Linked DNA regions of Homo sapiens: all the other regions are reported to be linked to region 2. The links are microRNA targets in miRTarBase. Many come from high-throughput screens and were not tested one by one. Region 2 holds a microRNA gene; each other region holds the end of a gene's coding sequence. Distances are between the middles of the regions.
The links. Region 2 holds the annotated microRNA hsa-miR-6079 (UUGGAAGCUUGGACCAACUAGCUG, at 1,246-1,269, shown strand). A microRNA usually pairs through its seed, bases 2 to 8, with sites in the 3' UTR of a target mRNA and lowers its output. Matches are read on the target gene's strand: a 7mer-m8 pairs with bases 2 to 8, a 7mer-A1 pairs with bases 2 to 7 and ends in A, and an 8mer does both.

Region 1 (4,150 bases), not on the chromosome of region 2:
CTTTAGGGGTTCATAGAAGTATTAACAGAAATGGGAAACATGGTGATATTACAACTATAAAGACTTGACATTTTTGTTAAAAGAGAAAGTTCAAAGACAGTTAAGGGGAGTGTTAAATAATGCTGACTGGGGGGAAATGATATAGATACTTGCTTTTCAAATGAAAATCATGGACAAGTGGTAGTAACCATCCCATCTGAACAGAGTAATGTAATATAATTAGATACACAGTTTACAACGAAATAAGACTAAATTCTTAAAATTAGTTTGAAAAAAACCTGCAGTTTGTTTACATTAAAAGTCATACTTTACACCAGACAAAAACTCAATGCAGTGATGTTAACATGCTACTGTCTTCTAACAGAGATGGCCACCCTGAAAGACCCAAATAATGGTGCTGGAAAGGACACTGTCAAATACTGTCAGGTAGTTTTGCTACTGAGGCAGCCACTCATCCAGCACAAGGACTATAAAAGCAAATCAATCCTTTTAACAGAACAAGAACACAGTTACAGGTGCTACCACATTAACAGACTGTGAAAGTACAAAGTCTTTAGTGATTGTGCCTTGGGAAATAAATGGGTCAAGGAAAATAAAATGAGAAACAAACAAAGGATGTATGGAAAACTAGAGGTTAAAGGATACTATATGAACAACAGAAATTTTATAAAACAAAAATCTAAAAATGAAATACTTGACAGTGTCCCTTTGACATATATAAAAGAGGGCACAAATAATGTTTTTGTTTTAAAAAATATTTTAACAACAGTTTTAATAGAAAAAAAATCAACTGACTTGAATTAAGCCAGTGTTCTTGACACCCACTGGGCCAAGAGCATTAAAACAAAACAAGACCGGAGAAGTTAATAAACACAGCTAAAGACAAAATTGGACAAAATAAAACAAAAGAAAACACAAAGTGAATAAGCATCCAATCAGGCAAACATGGACACAACCACCCTGAAAAGGTCTAGCCGTTGCAACTCAGTGGCATCCCCATCACCTAAAAAATGGTAGTGGCTTCTCCCCACCCCAGTGAGCTAATATTCAACATTCTGCTGATCTTATAAGTATTATTTGGTCCAATCTGAAGAAGGTCTTTTTAAACTAAAACTAGTCTAATGAAATTACACCTCAGGAATATGGAGGTGAAATTTTCTATTTTTAGTATTGTAATAGGATCTGGGCAAATTTTGCAAATATGTTGCCATCTGGATAAAAGTTATTAAATATAGATGCCTTTTTACTTACCAAGGCATTCCTTTCCCACTCCTCTTTAGTTTTAATAACTTGATTATAGTTTTGTCATGGCGCGTGGACCTGTCCAGTCAATTGTGTGTTTCAGTGCCCTTTGGTAAAGAGACTGTACTTAGCACACACACAGATACACATAATTCACAACAGCTGAGAAAGCTTGAGGGATCTGGGAAACACAAAACACCAAGAACAATGCAAAACAAATAGATTACTGCTGCATATCACTTCAAGTTTTTTAAGGGGAAAAAAAAAACACCTAAAAATAAATGCATCAAAGTATTTTTTAAAATACAGAAACGTGTACTTCTGGATGACTGATATTAATTTCCTTCCTAGCAGTCTTTTCAAGATGTTTTTGCTTCCCCTTAATTGTGACTCAAAGCTAATCAAATTGAGAGAAATGTAAGTTATGGCCCAAGGCCCTGCATTCACATCTACCTAACATCACATGCACAGGTTGGATGTAATTCAGATGCTCCAGTTTTGTTAACTGTTAATAACACAGAATTATACAAAGTTTTGCACAGCATCACATGTAATGACACATATGCTATATGCAATCAGGTAGAAAAACCGTATTTGCAGAATGGTTTAATAGATAGGTGTCAGGAACATGGTGGAAGCAGAGTTTCATGAGTGCACCTGTGCCAGAGTCCTCTACCTGTCACTGTGCTGTGAAAGTACTGCAATGAGTGGAGTTTCATATGCCTGCTGTGTATAAATTAGCTTTCATTTCCACATTGTAAGCTGGCACACTGAATTAGGGGAGCCTGGCAGCTGTATAAAAATCCTGATTAAGAGATCAAACTAGAGGATCTAAAGTGAATTTTTAATCTCTGAAATTAAATTCACTGGCTCCCATGTCTGGATAAGAATTATTGCCCCTAATGCCCCAACGTGCAATAGTCTGTGTGAATCAGTGATTCACATCCTTTAAAATAATTATTGCTTAAGCAAGCCATTTAGAGTAGATATGGGCTATGTGGCTGGATAGAAACACACTCAAAAAGTTAGACTAGACGGAAACAAGCCTTTCATTTCACTGATAAACCTACATAAATACACGATCGAAAGGGGCAACAGGTTCATAGCAGCTAACACCCTAAACCAACTCTGAAGCATCAAGACGTGGTTTCTTACTAAAACAAATCAGCTGTTTTTGTATTTTCCTCTTAAAATTAAGGCAATGAAATGGCTACAGTTCCTAAGGTTATTTTTACGGAACAAAAATATACATGTATTTTCCTCCTCAAGTTCAGGCATCAGAGTATGATTAGTGACTTGTATTACACAAAACCTGCAGCACTGGGTTGATGTGAGAGAGAGAGAGAAAAGAAAGAGAGAGACAGAAAGCAAGAAAAGCAAGAAAGCAAGCAAGCAAGAAAGCAAGCTAAGAAAAAGCCAACAAACCCCTGGTGATGTTTCCCCTTCCTGCTGAATTATAAAACCCAATCATCAAAGGGAGGAAAAGCTAGAAAGCACAAAACCTCTTAAGAGTTTTCAATGTCTCTTTCATTGATTCAAAACTTTTGGGGTGACGAAAGGGAGAAGCTTATTAACATGAAGACTCCTGGGCCCAACAACCAGACATTCTGACTCTGAAGGTCTACAGTTGGGCCTAAGAATCTGCCTTTTCACCAGCTCCTCAAGTGATGCAGGCGATCTATGGAGATTTTGAGAAACACTGCCTAGCATATATCCATTTCATATTTAATGACAAAAATTCTAAACTTTGGCTAGCCACCTATGTTAAAAGGAAAAAAGGCACTGCATATGTATTTCGTGGTGCCCATATCTGTTTGCACATATATGGAATTTCATTTTGAAAATTTTAAATCACCATTCAGAATCTAAAAGACATATATATGACAGATTGTGGCTAACACTTAACAGCAGAAGCTGATGCCAAGTTGACCTCTCCTGTTTCACTGTATTACATACATATCAAAGTTTCAGGCTCTCCAAAATCCAAAATGGCCAAATGAACTGAGGAATAGGACAAGACTCAAGTCAACTTTCAGCAATTCAGTGCACTTTGCAGAAAGGATCTAAATTAAGCATAAAGTTCTGTTGTTTATTTTACACAAAGGAGACCACCAACATTTGCCATAAATTCTTCTAAACTCTTTAAGAAGGCCATCTTCTGCTTCCGATCCAGCGTAGGAGGAGTGCTGCTTGCAGTGAGCTTGTTGAAGGCATCTGCTAATCTCTGGTAAATAACTGGGTCTTGCTGACTTGATAGTAATGTTTCGACCAGTTCAGAATATTCAGCCTATTGAAGAGATAAAGTATACACAAGTATCCTCCTTAGAATATCATACAAGTAGATCTTATCAGTTACTGGACTGTGGGGTTCTAAAAGGCAGGGACACATTTTTAAGAGTTAACATTTAGAATAATTCAGCATTTAAGTACTACTGTTTGAAAACCTTTTACATGGATTAATTCATCTATCATTTACAACAATGCTTCGAGACAGGTACTGTTTCTATTCCCATTCCAGAGGTGAAGGTTTCGACACTCAGTGAGGTGAAGTGATATGGCCCAGATCAAGCAAGAGTCCACCAATCTAGCCCCAAGACCCATGTGATAATCAACTTTGTTGTGCTGCCTCTTCAAAGCACATTATTCCTATTTATGTTGCGTTTGACACATAATCTAAGTCTGCAATAGTTCCCCAGAGGTTAATAGAGATATCTGGTCCACCCAGTTCTGAGGACAGCAATGTGCACAAAGACAGGACAGGCAGGAGTCTTTTGGGAGGACGGGGCGGAGAAATATATTCCAGTGCCTTCTCCAAGTGGAGCAGGGCACTCTGAAAGCTCCAAACCAGCACTGTGCCCAGCAGCTCTTAGAGAAAGGGCAGGAAGAGGACTTTAGTAAATATAGGAAT
Region 2 (4,000 bases):
TTATCGTGTCTATATTCGGTCACTGTTCGGGACAGTTCCCACTACTGGGGAATGGTTCCCACTGGATGGATCATAGCCTGAGTGGAGAGAATAAAAGCAGATGAGGCTGGCCATGTAGGAACATACAAGGAAGGTGGAAAGGCCAGGGGCTCTGAGTATCAAAGCCTGAGTAGCTGTATTCTATGAACTCCAAGCACCACTCCCCCGGGTATTGGAGCCTTGATAGAGCTCCTCGTTTCCTTGGTTTCAGGCTTCCTGCAAAGAATTATGAGTTTGAGCTGGGCACAGTGGCTCAATGCCTGTAATCCCAACACTTTGGGAGGCCAAGGCGAGAGGATCGCTTGAACTCAGGAGTTTAAGACCTGCCTGGGCAACATAATGAAACCCTGTCTCTTAAAAAGAAATCTGTGAGAATCCAGTTAAGTTCCTTTTACAGATACCATCCAGGGGCCTGACTTATTTATCTATCTATTCCTTTAGGGTTGGGGATTTGTTTTGTTTTTACCCTTAAAGCCTTAATGTGGAAAAGTGCCTGAAGTGCTGATTGTAGGGAATGAAACTTGATTCAAGGTTTAAACACCTTATCCCAGCCACTCGGGAGGCTGAGGCAGGAGAATGGCGTGAACCCGGGAGGCGGAGCTTGCAGTGAGCCGAGATTGCGCCACTGCACTCCAGCCTGGGCAACAGAACGAGACTCCGTCTCAAAAAAAAAAAAAAAAGGGTTAAACACCTACAGCTCCTTATGAATTAATAACCCACTCAGTGCTCAGTGCCTGGCAAGCTGTAACTTTCCTTCTCTTCCCATAGGCCTGCTGAATTAGCCACCAAGTACGCAAACTTTTCAGAGGGAGCTTGCAAGCCTGGCTATGCTTCAGCCTTGATGACGGCCATCTTCCCCCGGTAAGTGCTCCTGTTTCCCTCCACTGCCTAGACAGCCTGGTCTGGGGTCCAAGAGCCAGAAACTCTGCCTCTCACAGCCAGTCATGTTCTCCTATGCTCTGGAAACCATGGGTTCCTGGAAAGGACTCTGCCTTTAAGTTGGTTCCTACTCCAGTCCTACTCCATGCCGTTGCTTTGCCTTACTCCCATCCTGCCTCTGGAGCTTGCACCTTGTGGCACAGCCTGTTTCTGCAGAAGGATAACCTACATGGTTGCCGCATGCAAGCCAGGTATCCAGAGGCAGCCAGAGAAGGCTGCCAAGCACAGAAGCTCCTAGACCTAGTATCAGTGGCCAAAGAAACTTTTTTGGAAGCTTGGACCAACTAGCTGGCTTCAGGGAGGCATATCCAAATAAAGCAGGGAACAAAGAGAAATTTCTGAGGCTGTCTTGAGTTTTAGCACTTTCCTTCTCTGTCCATTTTGCATTCTGGAGCTGCTGACTTCTTTGGCACCTGAAAGAATCTGTGCATAACCCAGGGAGTTCCTTTTACCGAATGCTGCTAAGGGGTCTTGCTTACTGATCCACCTTCTCCTTTTTGGTTTTCTTTTCTGAAGCCTTGGTGTGGAAAAGGAGCTGAAGTGCTGAGATTGTCTTTGGAGTGCAGTGAGACTGTCAGGGTCATTTCGTTCCTTCTGATTTGGAGGGGCTGAAGGAAAGGCTGCCTAGGATTGTCTGGGCACTTGGACCACCAGAGGAGTGCTAGGGGTGGGCTCTGCTCACTGGGGGAAGGACTTGCCTCCCATCCCTTAGAAGGCTGAGGTTAGGACACGTAATGTGCTTGCAAAGGAATGCTGAGAAACAGCTCGCCCCAAAGTGACTCCGGTATATTTGGTTTTTATGCTCCCTTTCTTTTCTAACGTGAGCAGTCTCAGCTTAGCTCCTTGTGTAAAGCAAGGGCTATGCTGGCTGAGTATCTGGTGCTCAGATAGAGATCTCTTTGTCCAGGGTCTGCCTTCTGAATTGATTCCAAATATTTTGCTTCCTCCAGCTATTTATTGAGTGCCCCTGTGTCTGGCTTTTTGTGTTCTGTATTCTTAACACAGGTTTTTGCAAGCCTATACGACTCAGTCCTTAGCCCAGACACTTGTGAGTTTTCCTTTACCAGTATATAGGTTTCGTTTGCTTTTTCTAATTGAAAGTAATACAGGCATGTGGAAACAAAACAAAACAAAAAAACCTCAAACAGTACAAAAGGTTATATACTGCCACTCCAGACTCCTTCCCCAGAGACAGCCAATATTACCAAAAGTGGGAACATAACTGTATTTAATATTCTGTACTGTGTATTAGGCCGTTCTTGCATGTCTATGAAAAAACATCTGAGACTGGGCAAATTGTAAAGAAAAGAGGTTTAATTGGCTTATGGTTCATCAGGCTTTACAGGAAGTATGGTGCTGGCACCTGCTTCACTTCTAGGAAGGCCTCAGGAAACTTAAAATCATGCCAGAAAGCAAAGGGGGAGCAGGCACGTCATATGGCAAAAGCAGGAGCAAGTGAGTGAAGGAGAGAGAAAGAGAGGAAGTGCTACGCACTTTTAAACAACCAGATCTCACAAGAATTCACTCATTTTCACAAGAACAGCACCAGGGGGATGGTGCTAAGTCATTCATGAGAGACCACCGCCATGATCCAGTCACCTACCACCAGGCCCCATTGGAGATTACATTTTTTTCCCTTCCTTTTTTTTTTTTTTTTGAGACAGGGTCTTGCGGTGTTGCCCAGGCTGGAGTGCAGTGGTGCGATCTTGGCTCACTGCAGCCTTGACCTCCGGGCTCAAGCAATTAGCCACCTCAGCCTCCCAAGTAGTTGGGACTCCAGGCGCATGCAACCACACGTGGCTAATTTTTGTATTTCTGGTAGAGGTGGGGTTTTGCCATGTTGCCCAGGCTGGTCTCAAATTCCTGGGCTCAAGCGATCCACCCACCTTGGCCTCCCAAAGTGCTGGGATTACAAGTTTGAGCCACTGAGCCTGTCTGGGGATTACCTTTCAACATCAGATTTGGGCAGGGACAAATATTCAAACTGTATCATTTTGTCCCTGGCCTCCACAAATCTTATGTCCTTCTCACATTTCAACATACAGTCATCCCTTCTCAATAGTCCCTGCGAAATCTTAACTCATTCTAGCATTAACTCAAAAGTCCTACTGTGGTCCTGTGATCTCGCCCTGCTTCCACTTGCCTTGTGATATTCTATTACCCTGTTAAGTACCTGATGTCTGTCACCCACACCTATTTGCACACTCCCTCCCCTTTTGAAAATCCCTAATAAAAACTTGCTGGTTTTTGTGGCTTGTGGGGCATCACGGATCCTACCAACGTGTGATGTCTCCCCCGGATGCCCAGCTTTAAAATTTCTCTCTTTTGTACTCCGTCCCTTTATTTCTCAAGCTGGCCGACGCTTAGGAAAAATAGAAAAGAACCTACGTGATTATCAGGGCAGGTCCCCTGATACTAAGTCCCAAATCTAAATTCTTATCTGGAAATGAGTTCCTTTCACCTATGAGACTGTAAAATCAAAACAAGTTGCTTACTTTCGAGATACAATGGGGGTATAGGCATTGGGTAAACATCCCATTCCAAAAAGGGGTAATCAGCCATAAGAAAGGGGCTATACGCCCCATGCAAGTTTGAAACCCAGCAAGGCAGTCATTAAATCTTAAAGCTCCAAAATTATCTCTTTTGACTCTGTGCCCCACATTCAGGGCACACTGGTGCAAGAAGTGGGCCCCCAAGATCTTGGGCAGCTCCGCCCCTGTGGCTTTGCAGGGTGCAGCCCCTGTGGCTGCTCTCATGGGCTGGCGTTGAGTGCCTGAGGCTTTTTCAGGTGCAGGGTGTAAACTGCTGGTGGATCTACCATTCTGGGGACTAGAGGATGGTGGCCCCCTTCTCACAGCTCCACAAGGCAGTGTCCCAGTGGGGACCCTGTGTGAAGGCTCCAATCCCATGTTTCCCCTCCACACTGCCCTAGTAGAGGTTTTCTGTGAGGGCTCCACTCCTGCAGCAGGCTTTTGCTTGGGAAGCCAAGCTTTTCCATACATCCTCTGAAATCTAGGTGGAA
Region 3 (4,150 bases), not on the chromosome of region 2:
AGCAACACAGTTCACTGTAGGGCTCTTGGCATACACAGAAAAAAGTTGGTAGTGACATCCAGCACCCAGAAATAATATACTTTCATGTTTCAACCTAGGTAGGTATATATTTTAAACCCAAGTTGGAATTGACTTTATTTTACTATTTTTTTAATGTTTCCTATTCAATACTCTTTTTAAATGACTTTAAATAATGGAACAGAATTATAACATATGGATATGACAAGTAACTTACTGACCCCCTTCTGCAGAGTTGATTTTACTCTTCTAATTCCTGAATATACCTCCCACTAGTTCCCTGGGACAAAATTTCCAAAGGTGAGAATCTTGGGTCTTAAGAAAACCTTTAAGGCTTTTGATCCACTTGCCAGACTGCCCTCTGGAAAGGCTGTCCACCCCGCACATACCCGCTTTTCGCAGGAGAGGACTGCCACCCCTACATTCTTTGGCAAGGGACTTCTTTTTAACGAATAAAAGAGCACAAAGGGCACTGTCCGGCCTGGACATCAAGGGTTGCCCGTCTGAAGCAGGAAAGGCGTGCCCTTGACGGTGACTCATGTCCGTGACCCACTGCCAGCACTGGGATACTTAATGTGCCCGCAGAAAGAGAAGGGCCCACTTAGAGTTAACAGATTCTTAAGAGCCAACAAAGAGTTTTTCTGGGTGTAGAATACCAAGTACAGCAAGGGAAGTGACCTTGAAAAAAAAAATGGAAGTTCCCCCCAGACGAGGTCTGGCTGGCTGTCTGGGGCCAGCATGCTGACCTTCAGGTCTTCTGGCAAAGAATCAAGGTGGCCCGAGTGAGAAAACAAGTTAGTCATAAACAGACCACCACGCGTCTCCTGGCTGACTGCGGGCACCTCGGGTCTACAGAGAGCCCTGCCAACTTCTACTTCCTGCAGCCACGAGTGGACCAAGAACATGGCAGCCATTCTTCTCATAGACTAAAGCAACTTTAAGATAAGGCATTTGAGGAAGGGGAGCTTTATGCTGACCATTCATCATATTCAGAAAAAGCAAACAGTGGGAAATTCTTTGCTACAATCACTGAAATGTCACGAGACAATGTCATAGTGCGAAAGGGAAGCCCTGCAATTCAACTGACCCTGGAAGCCTGCTGGAATAAAAGTCACAGCTGAGCCAAGAGAATTTTGCTTCTATTGAAGAAAAAGTGCTTTCAAAGACTCTGTCAGAAAATCAACTCATAATAGTAACAGTAGCGGCCATGCAGCGAGGGTTGTTTGTGTGGCCACACAGGTATTCCTCTCATCTGAACTACATGGAATTATCATCCTCCTTTCAAGAAAAGGGACTCAGAAGGATTAGGAACCCCATCCCAGGACACACCGCTGGCAAAGGTCTGAGGCAGGATCCAAAGGCTCAGGTCTGCTGGAAGCCAAAACACAGTGCTTGACTGGCTTGGAGACCTCACTTGTACTTGAACTGAGCCACCCACACGCGCTTCCCCTGTACTTACCCCCGGAGAGGAGTATGGCACCGTGCTCGTCCACCAAAGTCAGAGAAGCTATGTCAGGCAGAGAGGTGGGGGCTGCCTCACAGACAGCCAAGGCGTGAAATAAACACAAACACCATTTTGTAATCAATGATTTTTATCTCTGAAAATGGAAGCAAGTGTTTTGACAGAACACTATGGCCACTCTATAAGAGCCGACCTAGGAGTAATTCACTGTCCTCTTCTGGGATGTCATGGCTTAAAAAAAAAAAAAAAAAAAGACAAAACAGGAAAATAATCCACAATGCTTTGGGCGCCTACTCTGAGCTTGGCTGGGCATCCATTCATTAAATAAGTCATAAGCTACAAACTAAGATCAGGGTAACTTTCCCTTGCCCTCCTGCTTCTCTTTGAACCACATGCCCTACGGTGTTTCACCACCATCAACAACTTTACTTCATTAATTCGATATCAGAACCTTAAAACACTACTGAATCTTAGACAAAAGGTCCTCAGCAGATTACATTGATAAAGAAACAAATACAGATTTGAATATAAGTCATTGCCATTATTGTTTTCTTTACATCTCATGATCCACTTCAATATTAAACACATACATACACACACACAAAACCACATCAAACATTCAGATGCCCTGAAATTGTGGAGACAGCACTCCCAGTATTGGCTGGATAAGAACATGGTCCTTTTTCTACACGGACATTACTCCAAGTTCGGCTGTCACCACACTCTGCCCTCACCCTGGCTCCCTGCATACAGACGTTTCCAGCCAGTCCCATGCCCACACCAGCACGAGCATGTGCAAGAATTCCCTTCGTGGTCCCAATGGCACTACACATTTCACGTTCAATCACAGACAGCCCTTCCAAAACAGAGGCTCCTTAAATCTTGTTTCCCAAGCATGCACTATAAGAAACTGGAAACGGGGCAAAGTTCCAGCTAACCGAGGAATGAACAGGTGACCAGAGCTCAGTCTCTGGCCCCCTCCGAGTCCGGGGAGCCTCTGTGCTTTGACGCAGCCTTGGTGAGAGATGGAGAGGCAGGGCAGGTTAGTTGTGCGGAGGGACATGTTTGTATGCATTAAAGCTACAGCAGAGGTCTGTGCTCCTGTTTCTGCTTCACTCTCTATCATTCTCCTCAGTCTCAATACTCATTCAATCGCACCCTCTGGCCTTGTCTTAGCTTAATGTGGTTAGAGCTAAAAGGCAGGAAGGAAAGAAGGAATGGCTGGGGGAGCCCTGAGAGAGGTCGCAGCACATGTGAGGAAGAGGGTAGAGCAGGAGCTTTGTTGGTGGAAGGAGAGCCACTTCCTCCTCCAACACAGCATGGGGACAGCACAGGGAAACAGGATCACCCAGGGCAAATACCCCTCTCCACATGCCCACATTTTTAGTCCCCACCACTGTACTCAAGAGCTGGGCAAGCTGCTGAAAAGGGCAAGAAGGAACACTCAGCAGTACACGTCTTCCTGTCCTGGGCACCCTTGTCAAGTATTGACCAAAACCTGAAACATGATGTTTAAAGTGATGAATGCAATATGATCCTAGGTGTGTAACAAACTGCAGAAACACATGCTAGTTTGGGTTAGATTATAATCATCTGAAGCACAGGATAACCGAGAAGCAAAATTCCATTCTGGTACAAACACCCAATTTCTAGAAAAGAGAAAGGAAAAGAAGAAATACGACGTGAGCTTTTTTGATCAGAAGACTCCATGAAATGAGAGCGGTGGTAATATGAATCCACGTGATTTTTCAAGTCTTCCTGTTGTACAGTCATCAAAATGACCAGGTTTGTGCTGCAAAGGAGCCAGCACCATGTGGCTACTGCTTTGATTGTTCTCAGATGAATGTTTATACAAAATAATATCTTATCTTCATTTAGTTTATAAACATACACAGTGCTGTCCCTTTCAAATTAAGGAAAAAAAACCACACACACAAATACTGCAAAGTAGCAAAATACAAAGGAAAACAAAGCTACTTTTGGTTTTGGCAACATTAAAAAAGAAAGAAATATAAAAAGCAATGTGGCATTGGTCCCTATTCATTAAAAAAAAAAGGGTACTTGGGCACGACACAATCAGAATTAGTTTGTTTTCTAAAATTCAGAGTATCTGGGATTTTAAAAGTAGCACTTTTTAAAAAGTTCAACAAGTCACATAACACTTAAAACATCAAAAAAGCTTTCTGATAAAAAGCTCAGCTTTTAAATCACGTTTTGTTTCTGCAAATTTGGGAGACAAATTGAGTTCTTACTGGAATGTGGCCTATCGCTGGTTGACAAATCTGAAATGGAATGTCTCCAAATGGCAGTGCCTCCCTTTCCGCCCTCCCTAGGACCACACCAATAACCAGCTCCCAAGCACAAGTTCTTGCTCCCATTTTTTCTGTAGGGGTGGGGGTGGGACCTTCAGGCTGCTATCTTTGCCATCTGCTGTTCTAACTTGGAAATACGCTCATCTTGATTGCAGATTGTGTCTTTTATAGATTTGATCTCTTTTAAAATCTCATCCAACTTGGCTTCATTTTGCTAAGAAAACAAAAAAAGGAGGCAGTGATTAAAATGCAGTAAACAAAGTTCAACACTGTTCAAAACTTGTAAGATATAAAATGTAGTTTTCTATTTTGCAAACGGCAAGCCATAGTCACCAAGTTGAAAAGAGAAGTCAAAGCC
Region 4 (4,150 bases), not on the chromosome of region 2:
ATTACGGCACTGAGAAAACTTCTCTGCAGTGGTGGGCTCACCACTTTCATCCTGTGGTAGTTCTGGTAGCACTCCCAGTGTGAAAACCCTAGCACAGGTAAATTCACCTCTTTGAAATAAACAGTGACCCTGGAGAAAGGTGAATTCCAAATCTAGTACCATATTCAAGTCATCTGGCAGAGAAGCAGGCATAAAAGAGTTTTCTAGGTACTTGAGGTGCTGCTGTAACAAATACCTAAAAGTAGAAAAGTGGCTCTGGAATTGGGCAGTAGGTGGAGGCTGGAAGAATTCTGAGGAGCATGCCAGAAAAGAAGCTAAACTGCCTTAAACAGACTGTTAGTAGAAATATGGAATGTTAATGCTAGGGCGGCCTTGAAGAAAGGAGCATAATAGAGAATACCTCGATTGCCATAGAATATCTAAATCATCATGAATAGACTGTTGGTAAAAAATGAGGAATATGTTACTGGAGAAGTGGAGGAAAGGAGTCCTTGTTACATAGTGGCGAAAAGCTAAGCTGAGTTGTGTCCTGCCGTTATGTGTAAAGCAGAACTTTTAAGTGATGACTTCAATATTTAGCTGAGGATATTTCCAAGCAAGCTGTGGAAGGTACAGCCTGCTGTCTTCTTGCTGATTATAGTAAAATGTGGAAAGAGGTAGATTGAGGGAAGACCTGTTAAATATAAAGAAACCAGGACTTGATGATTTGGGAAATTCGCGGCCTATTCAAATGGCAAAAGCCACTAAAACTAAGATTCACCGTCAGGACAGCCTTTACTCTAGAGAAAGTGATGAAGATATGGCTGTATAACCTTTTGCTAATACTTCAGAAACATCAAAAGGTCTGAATATCAGGTCACACACAAGACTCTTTGAAGATATTAAGGGTGTGAATCATAGATCCTCTCAGCTATTTCAGAAAAAGCCAAAAACAGAGACAGGATTTTCCAGGAAAGATACGTGAGGAGCCTCCTATCTAAATGAGTGCATCCCTGTGACATATGTAAAAGACCCACAAGTTTCTTGACAACGTTATAGCAGCAGAAGCACCACCATTTTTAACAGAAAGCTTTAGAGAATATAAAAGAAGAACAAACTGATAAGTTGATACTCAGCTGCAAACGTGTGCTACCTTTTGTGAAAAAGTAAAGATGACTCTGAGACAGTCAACAAGCCCAGAGAACAGCAGTGAGCTGAAGATTACTCCCAGGCCTTGAAACTTAAAGAAGGGTGCCTCGCTGGTTTTGTAAATTGATTGGTGCTGATGGCTCCTTTTTCCATCTGTTTCTGCTTTTTGAACAGGAACGTGTGTAACTATTATTGTCTGCCTGTCATGCCATCATACTTGGGAACAGATAACTTGTTTTCTAGGTTCACAAGTGCACAGTTGGAATTATGTCCCAGAAATCACACACAGATCCTCTCCCAAACTTAATTTAGATGGCTTCAATGTGAGATTTGAGACTTTTGAGTTGGTGAGACTCAGATAAGATTTTGGATTTAGAGTTGATGCTGTAATAATGGATTGTGACTTTTGAGCACCTATGAGTGATGTAAATTTATTTGTGATGAATCTGAATCTTTAACACAGGAGTGGAGCGGGGGGTGGGTGGGAACTGTAGTAGGCAAGAATAATGTTCCATGTAAAATGTTAATGTCCTAATCTCCAAACCTGTATGTAACCTTAGATGGTAAAAGAGATTTTGCAGATGTAATTAAGGTTACTATGGATTTCAAGACAAGGAGATAAGCCTAGATTGGATATCCGGTGGGCCTCATTTAATCATGAGTCCTGCAGAGAACCTCTCCACACTGGTGTCAGAGAGATGTGGTAACAGAAGGGTCATAGAGATGAAACAGCACTGGTTTTTAAGATGGAAGAAGGAGGTCACAAGCCAAGGAATGAGGATGTCCTGTAGAAGGTGGAATGACAAGGAAATGATTCTCCTGTAGAGCCTCCTAACAGAATGCAACCCTGCCAACAAATTGATCTTGGCACCGCGAAACTCTTAACCTGGACTCCTAACCTACAGAATTGTGAAGATAATAAATTTGTGCTATTTTAAGCCACATTTTGTAACTTGTTATGGTGGCAATGGAAAACTAACCAGAAGTAATAATTAAGGATGAAATGGTGTCTAGGAAGAAGGAAAAGCTTCTGGCTTCAGCAGAAATGCAAACATTTATGCTGGTAATTCTTTAGATCTAGTCCGTCTGACAGAATTTACATTCCTGTATTTCTACACTAGTCTTGTTCTGGAGAAGACATTCTAGGTTGAGCACACAGAATAGTGTTTAGTGTATACAGTGAGTTTCCTAGAAAAATGTGTTGAATGAATAAATGAATGTGATCAACGCAAGCTCTGGGAGGAACTGTAATTACTTGATTTTAAAATATTGTTGCTGTTTACCATATCTTCTTAAGAACTGCTGACCTTTAGGCTGGGCGTGGTGGCTCATGCCTGTAATCCCAGCACTTTGGGAGGCTGAGGTGGGTGGATCACCTGAGGTTCGGAGTTCGAGACCAGCCTGATCAACACAGAGAAACGCTGTCTCTAGCAAAAGTACAAAAATTAGCCAGGCATGGTGGCGCATGCCTGTAATCCCAGCTACTTGGGAGGCTAAGGCAGGAGAATCTTTTGAACCTGGGAGGCGGAGGTTGCGGTGAGCAGAAATTATGCCATTGCACTCCAGCCTGGGCAACAAGAGCAAAACTCCATATCAAAAAAAAAAAAAAAAAGAATTGCTGACCTTTATGTGTTTCTGTTTAAGTTCACAACAGTCATAATTCTGTAAAATACAAGGCAAAACTGTAGTTTCTGATACTAGTAATATATCTAAATCAGTAAGTAAAAAGGATGTGTAAAATCTTAATAGGAGAAATAATTATTGTATGATCAAACAATTTCAAAATCAAAAGACACGTTTCAGTATATATTATAGACAAATTTTCAACTTATTTGATCAAAAGATTTCTTAATGGCTGTTGGTCAATGCTGCATCAAGAAACTTTAGTGCAAATTTTACCAAATGCATTTATCAAAAAGGGGTTTTGTTCATTTTTCTCTGCAAACAAATGTTGTTACATTAACACTAAGCATGTAACAACTCATTTGCCTAGAAATCCAAAAACTATCAACATAAGCCAGTCCTTCAACTAAAAACTCAAACATACTTATCTCAAGGTCTATTCCTAATCCAAATTTGTCTATATTCAGATTGGAAGACAGAATAACAATAAAACCAAAATTTATCTGTAAAAATAATAAAAATAATTTGGCTGTTTTTAATGCTGAAGTATTGTCCTTATTAATACGGCACATCATCTATTCCCACATGCTACTGCATGGACAGGAACAATATTATTTTAGTTGCTGGAGTAACACAGTGTTAAGAATATCTGCTTCTAGCAGTGTCAGGCTTTCATCTGTTAGCTCTTTATTCGGAAATGAAGTCACAAGAATAAAGTCAAGAGCCGCAAATTCAGGACGAGACTGTACAATAAAGTTCCGGACATCCAGGATCCTGAAGAAATAAGACAAAAATAATTTGTAATATAAAAAATCATATTTTCATGTAAACTTAAAACTGAATCATAATAAAAATCACAAAATTTTAATCTTTATATAAAGGTGTTGTAACTTTCTTTAATATATAGTATTTCAATTGAAGGATTTATCTTAGGCTTCAGTTAAAATGTAAAGTAACTTTAGTGTGTACTTAACATTTACTTTTCCTGTAAAATGGAAACAATCTTCAGGTAAGTTATGAATAAAGTAAGTGTACTAATGTTGTTATTTTAAAAGTGCAGGTCCAGCTGGGCACGGTGGCTTACGCCTGTAATTCCAGCACTTTGGGAGGCAGAGGTGGGCAGATCACTTGAGGCCAGGAGTTCAAGATTAGCCTGGCTAACACGGTGAAAACCCCGTCTCTACTAAAACCAGAAAAAATTAGCTGGGCATGGTGGTGGCTGTCTGTAATCCCAGCTACTCAAGAGGCTGAGCATGAGAATTGCTTGAATCTGGAAGGCGGAGTTTGTAGTGGGCTGAGATTCCGCCACTGCACTCCAGCCTGGGAGACAGAGTAAGACTCTGTCTCAAAAAAAAAAAAAAAAAAAAAAAAAAAAAAAAAAAATGCAGGTTGTACTTTT
Region 5 (4,150 bases), 48 Mb from region 2:
AGATTTTTTTCACCCTCCCAAGAACACAATTTTCACCCTTTTAGAGGCAAGATTGCTCACTTCAAGAATGTATGACCTACTGGGGCACTATAGGAAAATGTCATTTTAACTTTGACAGTGAATCTCAAGCCCATGTATTTTGTTTTTATAGCTGCCTGCCTCTCAAACATCACATGGTGACCACTCCAACACTACTACTGTGGGGAGAGAATGACGCATTCATGGAGGTTGAGATGGCTGAAGTCACAAAGATTTATGTTAAAAACTATTTCAGGCTAACTATTTTGTCAGAAGCCAGTCATTGGCTTCAGCAAGACCAACCTGACATAGTGAACAAATTGATATGGACATTTCTAAAAGAAGAAACAAGAAAAAAAGATTGACTTTTCTTTATCTTCTATGAAGGGTCTGTAATGAAATCTCTAAATAATTTTTAAAAATTGTTCATCAACTTCTTTATGTTTTATTAGAAAAAAACTGTTTTAATGTGCTTTATCATAAATAAATATCCTGACAAATGGTATTGAAAAAAATCTGAGATCATGTGAACATATAATACAATGTTGATTTTCTTCTGGTGTATTTTGCACAGACAAGCATCTGCCTTAAAATATATACACTTGTACAAAAAGGAAGTTTGGAGTAAGTGCTTCCATTTTGGTTTCTTGCTTTTTTTTACTCTGTTAACATATGGTGCCTTTTACAAATGTATATTAAAGATTAGCTGTGCCATATTATAAGGCAAACCTGAAATAATATAAATTTTCATTCTATTGTTCAAAAATTCTTTTTACTATTTTTAACCATTAAAAAGTTATATTATCGAATCTCTTTGGATTTATAGTATATCTATTAGTTTGAAGGCAAATATAGCTAAATGAATATGCATTTTTAAAATGGGCCATATACTATTTATACTGGGAACATTAAACCATTTTTTAAAGCTGACATCTTGGCTGGGCGTGGTGGCTCATGCCTGTAATCTCAGCACTGTGGGAAGCCAAGGCGGGAGAATCACTTGAGACCAGGAGTTTGAGACCAGCCTGGCCAACATGGTAAAACCTCATCTCTACCAAAAATAAATAAAAAATAAAAGTGGGCAGGCGTAGGCGTGCACACCTGAAGTCCCAGCTACTCATGAGGCTGAGGTGAGAAGATCGCTTGTGTCCAGGAGCTTGAGGTTGCAGTGAGCCATGATTGGGCCATTGCACTCCAGCCTGGGCAATGGAGTGAGACCCTGTTGGAACGGAAAGGGAAAGGGAGAGGGAAAAGGAAGGAAAGGATCCTTTTACCCCATTCAATGCAACGAGAATTGAATATTACACATCTTATATGCACTAGAATCTAAGCTCCACAGGGCAGGGATTTTTTTGTTGTTTTATTAACTGATACATATTCAAGTCTAGACTAAGGGCCTGGCATATTGTAGGCACTCAAACATTTGCTTAATGAATAAATAATATATCTGGCACACTGCTAGGCACTGCGGGGGGGTGGGGAATATAAAAGAAAGATAAGGTGGTAACATAGAACTTTCCCATAAGAAGCCTTAAGGGCTGGGTGTGGTGGCTCATGCTTGTAATTCCAGCACTTTGGGAGGCTGAGATGGGTGGATCACCTGAGGTCAGGAGTTCGAGACCAGCCTGGCCAACATGGTGAAACCTCATCTCTACCAAAAATACAAAAATTAGCCGGGGATGGTGGCAAATGCCTGTAATCCCAGCTACTTGGGAGGCTGAGGCAGGAGAATTGCTTGAACCTGGGAGGCAGAGGTTGCAGTGAGCCAAGATTGCACCACTGCATTCCAGCCTGGGCAACAAGAGCAAAAAAAAAAAAAAAAAAAAAAAAAAAAAAAAAAAAAAAGACGCATACATAGAATGCAGTCAAATTAAATAAAGGTTCAAGAGTAGAAATGAACATTATAAGTAAGAGTTGAAAAGAGTTACAGAATAGAGAACAATACCAACTCAGGGGACTACTACTCATTCTTTTGGGTTGTTCCCCTTTAACATGGGAGGCAACCAGTAACACTGCCAAATCACATCACAGAACAAATAAGCCCTAAATTGGTGAAAGGATTGCTTCCCTCATTAAGCATAGTTCTGATCGTGACAGAACAAAGGAGAATGTCCCTAAGAATTCTCATTACTGTATCACAGCAAGTTGTATTTACAACAAAAATCCAATTCTCTATACAACACATTGCTTCGTAACAACATGCAAGGTAGGTATCACCAATTTATAAATAGTAAAAATGTGATTTAACGTGTAACTTTGCCAATGCCCATAGTGTAAGTTCTGGAGCTAGGATCTGACCTAGAGCCATCTGGTGGTAAAGCCCATGATCCCACTTACACCAGATACCATTTAGCAGACTTGTGGTATCCACGCCACTCTTCCTGTTTCAGCAGTAATCTGGTGTGTTTCAATAGATGGCCATATCTCTCAGGAACCTACAATTTGACTTTTAATTTTGGGAGGGAAAAGGAATTCAAATTAGCCATTAGTAAACATAGGAATATTCTATAGAGCATTGTCAGAGTTGCAAATGCCACAAGGTATAGAAAAATCCTGGTTCATACCAACTTGTTGCTTCCCTCTTGATCCCTCCAGAAGGGCAGCAACAAGGGAAAGAATGGGACGTGTTGACACAGTAAAGTAATCCTGACTTATTTTAATAAAAACCTGTTACTGACAAAGGTGATTTTAAGATTTGTTGTTGTTGCTACTTATGTCAGTTTAGGAAGCTGACAAGTTCATGTGGACTAATTTTAAGAATTTATCAATCAAACATTCCATGGGCAATTCCGGCCTATTACAATGAATGTACTCTAATTTTTAATAGATATGGAAAAGTACTTGTAACAGATATAAAGCCTCAAGGGTGCCATCTTGAGTTAAACCTCTTAGGATAAACAGTTATTACTATCTCTGTAGAAATCTATTGGTAGGGCAAGTAAGTGAATTTGATTTACTAGCTGCCAAAGCAGCTCACAGTAAATAAAAACAGGTAATGGCACCTAAATTAAAAGTTGTAATTATTAATAATATTCATCTATTCAAATTAATATATCCCTAGTAGTATATAATATATGCCTAATTTAACATCAGAAATTGCTATGTGAAAATAATTTATTAGGCATATGTCAAAAGCAAGATGTTTGCAAAAAAAGAAAGAAAGAATGTGCTGTTGATATGATTCAAATTCTCCTGTTACATCATTTACCATCTTTGATTTTTCTGATTTTAAAGGTAATGCAGCATTTTCTATTAACCTACAATTTCCTCTAACAGTTCTAATTATGTGCAAACAGAAAAAGCAGTTGGATGTGGGGAAGGGTGCATGTCAAAGGCTGCCCCCAAATCCAGGCTACACACAGCCTGGGTCTGCTAAGTCGGTTTCACGGCTCTGCATCCACAGACTCTGAGTTGGAGGCGAAGGAGTCTGGGATCACGCAGGAGCTAATCAAGTCCTTGTATCCTCAGCAGACACGCCTCTGTGCATGGTGCTGGACCTGCATCATCCTCGTGGGTACGAATGTCCTGCATCGCCTTCCTCTTCATCTGGCCAGTGGCCATGCTTTCCACCTTTGGCTATCCTGCTCAAATCCTGCAACCCTGCCAAGAGTTGGAGAAAAAAAACTGGTGAAACCAGTACTCAAGCTCATGCTTCAGGTGGCTTTCTTTTTACTTGGGTTCCTGGCTAAAGTGAAAGGGAAAAAGGCAACCCAAGACAAGGCCCCTATCTTCGTTACAGCACCACGGTCCACTTTCTTTGACTCAATCCCCTGTGTGGTGGCAGGGTTACCCTCAGTGGTCTCTGCAAGTCAAAATGTGCAGATCCCATTGGCTGGGAAATTCCTACTGTCAACACAGCTGGTGCTTGTGATTTGAGAAGACTCCCATTCCAGGAAGAATACTAAGGATGAAATCCTGAAGTGAGTGACATTTGGAAAGAAGTGGCCACAGATTCTGATTTTCCTAGAAGGTGTGTGCATCAATCGCTCCCGTCTAGTCACTTTTAAACCAGGGGCCTTCTGTCCAGGTGTTCCTGTGTAGCCAGTGCTGCTCAGGTACCCAAACACCCTGGACATGGCAATCTGGACCTGGCAGGGATTCACAGCCTTACAGGCCTGTATGTTGACACTCA

Region 1: miRTarBase lists XPO4 as a target of hsa-miR-6079. Seed matches in the 3' UTR shown: 7mer-m8 at 1,875-1,881.
Region 3: miRTarBase lists CORO1C as a target of hsa-miR-6079. Seed matches in the 3' UTR shown: 7mer-m8 at 1,624-1,630.
Region 4: the mRNA of UBXN2B is a reported target of hsa-miR-6079. Seed matches in the 3' UTR shown: 7mer-A1 at 3,220-3,226.
Region 5: the mRNA of EPHX4 is a reported target of hsa-miR-6079. The part of its 3' UTR that is shown has no 7-base or 8-base seed match.

What each region holds. Positions count from the first base shown.
Region 1 is chr13:20,780,391-20,784,540 of GRCh38, forward strand. XPO4 (exportin 4) reads right to left here. Exons shown (of 23, transcript NM_022459.5): 23 at 1-3,529. The coding sequence ends at 3,332. Among named protein-coding and RNA genes, the nearest start is that of EEF1AKMT1, 8.5 kb to the left of the region's middle.
Region 2 is chr1:43,837,412-43,841,411 of GRCh38, forward strand. MIR6079 (microRNA 6079) reads left to right here and starts at 1,211; the gene lies at 1,211-1,272. It overlaps ST3GAL3 (ST3 beta-galactoside alpha-2,3-sialyltransferase 3), which reads left to right. Exons shown (of 12, transcript NM_006279.5): 5 at 808-900. RefSeq lists an enhancer at 3,271-4,000.
Region 3 is chr12:108,643,517-108,647,666 of GRCh38, forward strand. It overlaps CORO1C (coronin 1C), which reads right to left. Exons shown (of 11, transcript NM_014325.4): 11 at 1,593-4,006. The coding sequence ends at 3,887. It overlaps LOC105369968 (a long non-coding RNA gene), which reads left to right. Exons shown (of 3, transcript XR_007063449.1): 3 at 1-3,149. Among named protein-coding and RNA genes, the nearest start is that of MIR4496, 9.8 kb to the left of the region's middle.
Region 4 is chr8:58,446,764-58,450,913 of GRCh38, reverse strand. It overlaps UBXN2B (UBX domain protein 2B), which reads right to left. Exons shown (of 8, transcript NM_001077619.2): 8 at 1-3,525. The coding sequence ends at 3,363. Among named protein-coding and RNA genes, the nearest start is that of UBXN2B, 37 kb to the right of the region's middle.
Region 5 is chr1:92,062,904-92,067,053 of GRCh38, forward strand. It overlaps EPHX4 (epoxide hydrolase 4), which reads left to right. Exons shown (of 7, transcript NM_173567.5): 7 at 152-635. The coding sequence ends at 383. It also overlaps the pseudogene LPCAT2BP. Among named protein-coding and RNA genes, the nearest start is that of SETSIP, 10 kb to the right of the region's middle.